Regions from separate parts of the Homo sapiens genome. Here region 2 is linked to region 1. Evidence: fine-mapped expression QTL. A gene starts in region 1. The other region holds a variant in brackets. All regions are shown on one strand. Distances are between the middles of the regions. Region 1 holds the start of GTF2A2 (general transcription factor IIA subunit 2). Region 2 has its middle 20 kb from the start of GCNT3.

Evidence for each region. PIP is the estimated chance that this variant, and not a neighbour inherited with it, causes the effect. A credible set is the group of variants that fine-mapping cannot tell apart.
Region 2: its variant is the best candidate, but not a certain one, in a credible set for the expression of GTF2A2 in memory regulatory T cells (Schmiedel 2018, PIP 0.60).

What each region holds. Positions count from the first base shown.
Region 1 is chr15:59,655,584-59,659,978 of GRCh38, reverse strand. It overlaps GTF2A2 (general transcription factor IIA subunit 2), which reads left to right and starts at 2,464. Exons shown (of 5, transcript NM_004492.3): 1 at 2,464-2,573. It overlaps BNIP2 (BCL2 interacting protein 2), which reads left to right. Exons shown (of 10, transcript NM_004330.4): 10 at 1-833. RefSeq lists an enhancer at 2,428-2,657.
Region 2 is chr15:59,629,342-59,633,736 of GRCh38, reverse strand. No RefSeq gene overlaps it. Among named protein-coding and RNA genes, the nearest start is that of GCNT3, 20 kb to the right of the region's middle. The variant T/G (reference allele first, on the strand shown) is at 2,130.

The sequences.
Region 1 (4,395 bases):
CAGTTATGTAACTTTCCTTTGAAGTTCTAAAGGATAATTGAAAATAAAGTAGTCTGGCATGTTTAACAGTAAGGAGTGACACTAAAATTTGAATATAACAGTATGTTGCAACTATTTATAATAGACCTATTTATGTTTTGAGAACTAAGTAAAATGCTATGAAAAATTCACATAAAGCACGTAAGCACCAAATGAAAATCATTTCGTGCTTTCAAATTAATGATACTAGGCTTGTAGGATGTCTTAGAATCATGTTTAACAAGAAGTTAAAATATTTGCATTTTGAAATTTTTATGCAGTTTGGCTAAGGAGGAACTTGGAAAATAACATTCATCAGCTTCTACACTGCACTTTTTGTATGTGGACTTTGTAAAGTTTAATGTCCGTTTAACAGTTGCTTGTTTATTTGTGTAAACCTAGCTAGTAAATATTGATGATGTTCAGGGCCACTGACTTGCACAGCCCTTGGAGCACTATTCACACAGAACACAATTCAGAGTTTGTTAAGACATTAACACACTTTGATATCTATTCCAAAAATACTTTTGTTACCACAGGTTCATTGCTGTCATTTAGACAAAATTAATGTACTGTGATATTTTCCTACTCTTAAGATGATGTTGCCCAGCCGAGTACTGTCAGAAATTCAGTTCTGATGTCTGTGTGTGCAAGATATTAATGTGGTCCCTGTAAGAAATACCAGAGTTGGTCATGATTTACTAAGGAGATGTAATATTTTCTTTGACCTGTTAGGAATATAACTTGTGTCTTGATTTGTTGCACATCATATTTTTTGCAACATTAATGAATTTAAATAAATTAATTGGAACGTTCGTCTTTGTCTTTTTATCACATTTTTCTTTCATTATGCTACTAAATTTTTGCTTTGAATTATCCTATAAACCTCTTAAATAATTTCAGACCTTTACACTTGTTTCCCTTTCTATAGTCTAAGTGCTTCTATTCTTTGGGGATTAGAGAGTTCAGCCTGCTTTATTTTAACATCAAAACAATAATGAAACTTTGTGTTTCATAGTTGAGATTTTTTTTTAATTAATGGGGAATCCAAGGATGAAACCATGAGTGGCTTAAAATGAAAACATGGCTTTTTTTTTTTTTTTTTTTTTTTGAGACAGTTTCGCTCTTGTTGCCCAGGCTGGAGTGCAATGGCGCCATCTTGGCTCACCGCAACCTCCGCCTCCCAGGTTCAAGCAATTCTCCTGCCTCCGCCTCCCGAGTAGCTGGGATTACAGGCATGCACCAACACGCCCAGCGAAATTTTTTTTGTATTTTAGTAGAGACGGGGTTTCTCCACGTTGAGGCTGGTCTCGAATTCCTGACCTCAGGTGATTCGCTCACCTCGGCCTCCCAAAGTGCTGGGATTACAGGCATGAGCCACCGCCCCTGGCCGAAAACATGGCTTAAATAAGAAGAACTTGTTTAGTTCATAGACCTGCTCAGAGGTTCCAGCTGATACCACTTGGTGTTTTTTGTGGTTTTGTTGTTGTTGTTTTGCACATACTCTTTAATCACTATTCAGCTATTTTGTAGGATAAACTGCTCTACACATGACTGCTGGGTTTAAGCCAGTTAGTGTACCATGCACCCTGACACCTAAAACAATTTGTGATTTTGCAAACTTGAAATTTATAGTGAAGTATTTATCTTGCATATTAGATGCAAATTTTAAATATAACTTCTCCCAAATTAAAGTTCTTCATGAACTGGTCACAAACTAAAAACTTTGCCTGCAGCCCTGTTTCGAGGGGTAAAGAAGATACCCTGCTTACCCTGCTATAATTTTTTTTTTTTTTTTTTTTTTTGAGACGGAGTTTCGCTCTTGTTTCCCAGGCTGGAGTGCAATGGCGCGATCTCAGCTGACTGCAACCTCCGCCTCCCAGGTACAAGCCATTCTCCTGTCTCAGCCTCCCAAGTAGCTCGAATTACAGGCATGCGCCACCACGCCTGCCTAATTTTTTGTATTTAGTAGAGACAGGATTTCACCATATTATGCTGGTCGCGAACTCCTGACCTCCGGTGATCGACCCGCCTCAGCCTCCCAAAGTGCTGGGATTAAGGCGTGCGCCACCGCGCCCGGCCCCTGCTATAATCTTTTCAGAATTCGTCTGCAAGGTCTTCAACACTGTTACCCTGAACACACTTCCGGCATGAAATATGAATGCCCTACATTTCTTAAATTGTGCATCTAACAATGGAGAAGATTAGTCTCTAAAAATTATAATTCCCTTAGGAACGATTTAGTAAACCTGGTGAATTACTCGAGCAGAGCGCCTGTCCACCACTTTAAGGCTTCAAGCTCCAGCCCGACGCCCCTCCTTCCCTCTCCACGCCCTTCCCTGACAAGGCTTGAGTGGCGGGCGAGAGCAGGGCTGGGCGGGGCCTCCCGTCCCTCGGGCGGGGTGTCACTTCCAGGTTCCGCGAGCACTTCCGGGTCGTCAGCTCAGTTCTGCGGTTTCTGCGGCGGCTGGAGAGGTGGTCGGAGAAGTAGGAACCTCCTGCCGGGCTCGTGGCGGCTTCTGTCCGCTCCGCGGAGGGAAGCGCCTTCCCCACAGGTAGTGGGTTAGGGAGGGCAGGGTTAGGGAGGGAAGCAGGGCCGCGCTCCCTGCCGCCCCCCCGGAGTCGGAGTGCGTTGGTGGGGTAGTCTCTGAGGGCCCTTCGCTCCTGGGATCTGCCCGTTACCGACCGTTGCCGGCAAGGCCCCGCGGCCGGCACCGGAGAAGGGCGGCGAGGCGGCGGTGATGGTCGCGTCCCGTGGCGGGAGGCTCGTCGTTCACGGGGCGCCCACAGAACCCACCTAGGGGAGGTCTTCAGCCCACCACCGTATTTTCAGCCAGGTGAATGTCTTAAAGCATCCACTAGCGCCCTGTGAGTTTTGCCGAATTTCGGAGAGCATTTTTTAAATGTCTCATTCCTGTGCTTTGTAGCTTGTTGTTTGAAGTCTGCCTTCCAACTTTCTTCGTGCGAACTCCGACAAAAGGAACGAATTTTAAACTTGGTGGTTTAATCAAAAAATGCTAGGACGAGTTACTTCCGAATTTGACTTCTAATTTTCTGAACTGCAAAACAAGAAGGGAACAATAAATTTCTGTGGCTGATACCACATCTAAAAGATTAGAACACTTAACAAGGAATTTTTAAAGAATGTAAGAACATTGAAATCAGCACTTTTAACAAACGTTTAACGCAGGGCTATTTTCTAGATAAACTCAAAAATTTGTCAAATGGGACACGATGCACGATTCTGTATTCCTACTCTGTGGAGTTTTTATCTACCTATTGGGACTTCTTGCCCTTTTTAACCCCCTCTCCCCTCCCACACGCATATTATACTTACTGATATTTGCCTTCGTTTACTGAACAGATTTTTTTTTGGCTCCTATTGTGTGCCAGGTACTGTTCTAGACGCCTATTTTACTTAAGTGAACAAAATAAAAAGCTTTGCCCTCATGGAGCTTACATTCTATTAGAGGATGCAGAAAATAAAATATATAATGGTGTTAGAAAGTGATGGTGCCATCAAAAAAAAAAAGAGAAATATAAAGGAGTACGGGAAAGTTCCAGAGTGGAGGTGGGAACTGGTATTTTAAAGATGACGGTGGTCAGTTTGAGCCTCATTTAGTAGGTGTTATTTGAGCAAAGACTTGAAGGAATTAAGAAAATTTGCTAAGTAAATATCAGGAAGAGCATTCAGGCAGATAGGAAAGCCAATACAAATGCTTTTAGGCCTGTCATGTTTGAGGAATAGCAAGGAAGCCAGTGTATCTGGAGAGGGATGAGCAAGAGTTTTGGGGGTGGAGGGACAAGAAGATAAAGTCAAAGAGATCATGGTAGCCGGATCATTGTAAAGGCTGATAGAAGCCATGGGAGATTTTGAATAGAGGAGAGGTATGTTGTAACTGAAGTTTTAGAAGATCACCCTGGCTGTGAGTTGTGATTAGAGTGTAGGGGTGAGTGTAGAAGCAGGGAAATCATTTAGGAGATTTTTGCAGTAATCCAGATGACGAGAGTGGCCCAGGTCAGGGTGATAACCGTAGGGATGGTGAGAAGTGGTTGGATTCTGAATGCATTTTGAAGGTAGGCCTTACAGTATTTGCTAGGAATTGGATATGGAGAGTGAGATAGAGGGAGTGGAGGATGAAATCAAAGGTTTTGCCCAAGCTCGTAGAAGTATGGAGTTCTTTAAGCCACGATGCAAAAGATAACAAATAGAGATGTTGAGTAGGCAGCTAGATTCAGGAGTGAGAAGTTCTATGCTATATGAATTTGGGGATCATCAGCAGTGGTACTTAAACCATGAGAATAAATGTTATCCGTAAGGAATGGGTGTAGACGGAAAGCAGCAGAGGCCTAAGGACTGTGTCCTGTGATATTAAG
Region 2 (4,395 bases), 26 kb after region 1:
GAGTTTAGGGCAAAGCATTTTACCTAATAAGAGGTACAGGAACTTGGCAACACACAGCAAAGTATTTAGTGGGAATTAGCTCAAAAGAGCATTGTGTAGAAATATGCTCAACGGAACTTTCTCTTGAATATCCCAACTCTTATTATCTGATTCTGTGAACTTCCTGAAATTCTATTCAAGAGAAATAGGCTTCAAAACTGGTTCTTTTGCCTGTAGGCAGAGATGTGAAGGTATACTTTCCACTTCTGGAGACACATGGGCAGCACTGATTCTTTGGCCAAGTTAAGGGATGGACACAGAAGCTTTGTGCATTTCTCTTTCCTGCTTCTACTCCCTCTATTCCCTGATAGGAATACTCTATCTGCAGACTTCCACATTTAGTCATGCCAGAGTAAGAAGGATGGGACTTAACTTCCTTCTATAAACAACTAGAAAAGTAAATTAAGTATATGAAACAAACGTTTTCCACATATTGGACCACAGGCAGCTGTGACAGGACTGTAATCCCTAAGAAAGGAAAAAAATAGGATGAACCCTGTAATCATCCCAGCTCTCTTCATGGAGGCAATATCCAAGCTGCAGGCACAGGGAAAGGAAATAGAAACAGAACCTGGCAGTCTTGCGGAGTTGAGGAAAGGTGAGATAGTTGAAGCTGCAAGCAGATTTCCAGAAAGGAGAACACTATGGAGGGAAAAAAAAACCTCCAGGAATCTATACCGTGGTCCCCTCGAGTCCTTACTGAGTGCCTGGCTGCATAGAAGCAGTGACACTCCGCTAGGCCAAGCTAAGAGTGGGGAGTTGGAAACAGCAATTCCCAAAGCTCACACTGGGGGATGCCAGAGGGAAGAGTCCTCTGTAATCACCCAAGACATTAGAAACCCCAAGGTCATGCCTTGGTAGCAGGCATCAAATATCCCTTGAATGAAGGCTGCTTGACTTAAACTCACCCTAGCAAAGCGGAAAAGCAGACTCAAGGGAGATCACACTGTTCCACAAATATTGCCAAAATGAAGCCCAACACAAGTAAACGAAGTCCAGATCCTCAATAACTTAAGAGTTACAATGTACTCCATCTAACAGAAAAATGACTAGACATGCTAAGCAGCAGGAAAATGTGACCATAATGAGGACAAAACATAATGAACAGGAACAGACACAGAAATGACAGGGGTGATACAGCTAGCAGACAAGGATGTTAAAACTGCCATTTTTGTATTAATACAAATACTTAATGAGAAAAATCAAAGATTTTTTTAAAAAGCAGAACTTCTAGAGATGAAAGATACAATATATGAAAACAATTAACTGAATAGCAGACTAGATACTAAAGAAGATCAGTGAAATTGAAAAACAAATTTTATCTAAAATACAGCACAAAGAGAATATAACTAGGGAAAAAAGGAATCAAACCTCAGAGATTTTTGGAATAATATCGAGTGGCTATATATGGAAGGGAGAACAGAAAGATGAAATTAAGGAGACAGTGGCCAAATTTTTCCAAATTTGACGAAAACTATAAACCAACAACGAAGAAGCTTAACTCCAAGCAGGATAACCACAGTACATCAAAATCTAATTGCTGAAAAATAGTGATAAAGAGAAAATTTAAAAGCAGAGGTAAGAGACACTTTATACCCACAAAAACAAAGATAATGATTTCCAAAGACTACTTGTTAACAGCTATGCAGCTAGAAGACAATGAAATAAAATCTTAAAAATACTGAAGACCACCTCACACCCATAAGGATGGCTACTAGCAGAGAAAAAAAAATTAATAAGTGTTGGTGAGAATATAGACATAGTGGAATTCTTTTACAGTATTGGTGAGAATATAAAACTGGCACAACTAAGGAAAACAGTATGATGGTTCCTCAAAAAATTAAAAATAGAATTACCAACCAGGCATGTCGGGTCACACTTGTAATCCCAGCACTTTGGGAGGCTGAGGCGGGAGGGATTGCTTGAGGCCACTAGTTAGAGACCAGCCTGGGCAACATAGAGACTCCCATCTCCACCAAAAAAAAAAAAAAAATTAGCCAGGTGTGGTGGCATGCACCTGTAGTCCCATCTACTTGGGTGGCCAAGGCAGGAGAATTGCTTGAGCTCAGGAGTTCGAGGCTATAGTGAGC[T/G]ATACCTGCGCCACTGCACTCTAGCCTGGGCAATGGAGCAAGACTCCATCTCAAAAAATATATATATATGTATATATATGTGTGTGTATATATGTGTATATATATGTATATATGTGTGTGTGTGTGTGTGTGTGTGTGTGTGTGTGTGTGTGTATATATATAAATTTACCAAATAATCCAGCAATTCCAGTTATGGGTATATACCCAAAAGAATTGAAAGCATTGGCCAGGTGCAATGGCTCATACCTGTAATTCCAACACTTTGGAAGGCCGAGGCAGGAGGATCCCTTGAGCCCAAGAGTTCAAGACCAGCCTGGGCAACATGGCAAAACCCTATCTCTATTAAAAAATAATAGTACAAGAAATTAGGTGGGCATGGTGGCAGGCACCTGTAGTCCTAGCTACTTGGGAAGCTAAGGTGGGAAGATAATCCGAGCTCTGGAGGTCAAGGCTGCAGTAAGCCGTGACGGCGCCAGTGCACTCCAGCCTGGGTGACAGATTAAAACTAACGTCTTAAAAAAAAAAAAAAAAAAAAGCTAGAAATGATCAAGCTTACAAAGGAAGACATGTCAAAAGCTGAGCCTCTTGTGTCAAAGTCAGCCAAGTCATAAACACAATGGAAAAATTCCTGAAGAAAAGTAAAAGTGCTAGTTCTTACTCCATTTGCAGAACCCCTAAAAAAAAATTAAAAAAGTGCTACTTCAGTGAACGCATGAGTAAGAAAGTGAAACAGTCTTTTTGCCGATATGGAGAAAGTTTGAATGCTCTAGACAGAAGAGCAAACCAGCCACAACATTCCCTTAAACCAAAGCCTAATCCAACCAGCCACAACATTCCCTTAAATCAAAGCCTAATCCAGGCAAGGTCCTAATGTTCTTCAATTCTGTGAAGGCTGAGAGAGGTGAGGAAGCTGCAGAAGAAAAGTCTGGAGTTAGGAGAGGTTTATTTGTGAGGTTTAAGGAAAGATGCCGTCTTCAGAACATAAAAATGCAAGATGGAGCAGTAAGTGCTAATGTAGAAGCTCCAGCAAGTTATCCAGAAGATCTAGCTAAGATCATTGGTGGAGAAGCCTACACTCAACAGATTTTCCTTGTAGACCAAACATTCTTCCATTGGAAGATGCCTTCTAGGACTTTTGTAACTACAGAGGACAAGTCAATGCCTGGCTTCAAAGCACAGGCTGACTCTCTTGTTAGGGGCTAATGCAGCGAGTGACTTTAAGTTGAAGCCAGTGTTCATTTACCATGCTGAAAATCCTAGGACCCTTAAGAATTAAGCCTGGATGACAGCACATCTGCTCATAGCATGGATAACTAAACATTTTAAACCCACTGTTGAGAACAACTGCTCAGGAAAAAAAAAAAAATTAATGCTTGTTGAAAACATACCTAGTCACTCAAGCTCTGATAGAGACATACAAGGAAATTCATGTTGTTTTCACGGTTGCTAAGACAACATCCATTCTGCAGCCCATGTATCAAGTAGTAAGTTGAACTTTCAAGTCTTATTTAGGAAAAACATTTCGTAAGGCTATAACTATCACAGATAGTGATTCCTCTGATGAATCTGAGCAAAGTCCATTGAAAAATCTTCTGGGTCAGGCATGGTGGCTCACACATGTAACTCCAGCACTTTGGGAGGCCAAGGCAGGTGGATCTCCTGAGCTGAAGAGTTCAAGACCAGCCTGGCCAACATGGTGAAACCCTGTCTCTACTAAAAATACAAAAATTAGCTGTGCATGATAGCGCATGCCTGTAATCCCAGCTACTCAGGAGGCTGAGGCAGGAGAAATGCTTGAACCCAAGAGGCAGATGTTGCAGTGAGCCAAGATTGTGCCAGTGCACTCCAGCCTGGGTGACAGAGCGAGACTCTGTCTCAAAGGAAAAAGAAAAACCTTCTGGAGGCCAGCCATGGGGGCTCACGCCTGTAATCCCAGCACTTTGGGAGGCCGAGGCAGGTGGATCACCTGAGGTGTGGAGTTCCAGACCAGCCTGACCAATATGGTGAAACCCTGTCTCTACTGAAAACACAAAAATTAGCCAGGCATAGTAGCATGTGTCTGTAGTCTCAGCTACTTGGGAGGCTGAAACAGGAGAATTGCTTGAGCCCGGGAGGCAGAGGTTGCAGTGACCCGAGATCGTGCCACTGCACTCCAGCCTAGGTGACAGAGACTCTGTCTCAAAAAAAAAAAAAAAGAAAAAGAAAAGAAAAGAAAAGAAAAAAAAGAAAAACCTTCTGGAAAGGATTCACTATTTTAAATGCCTTT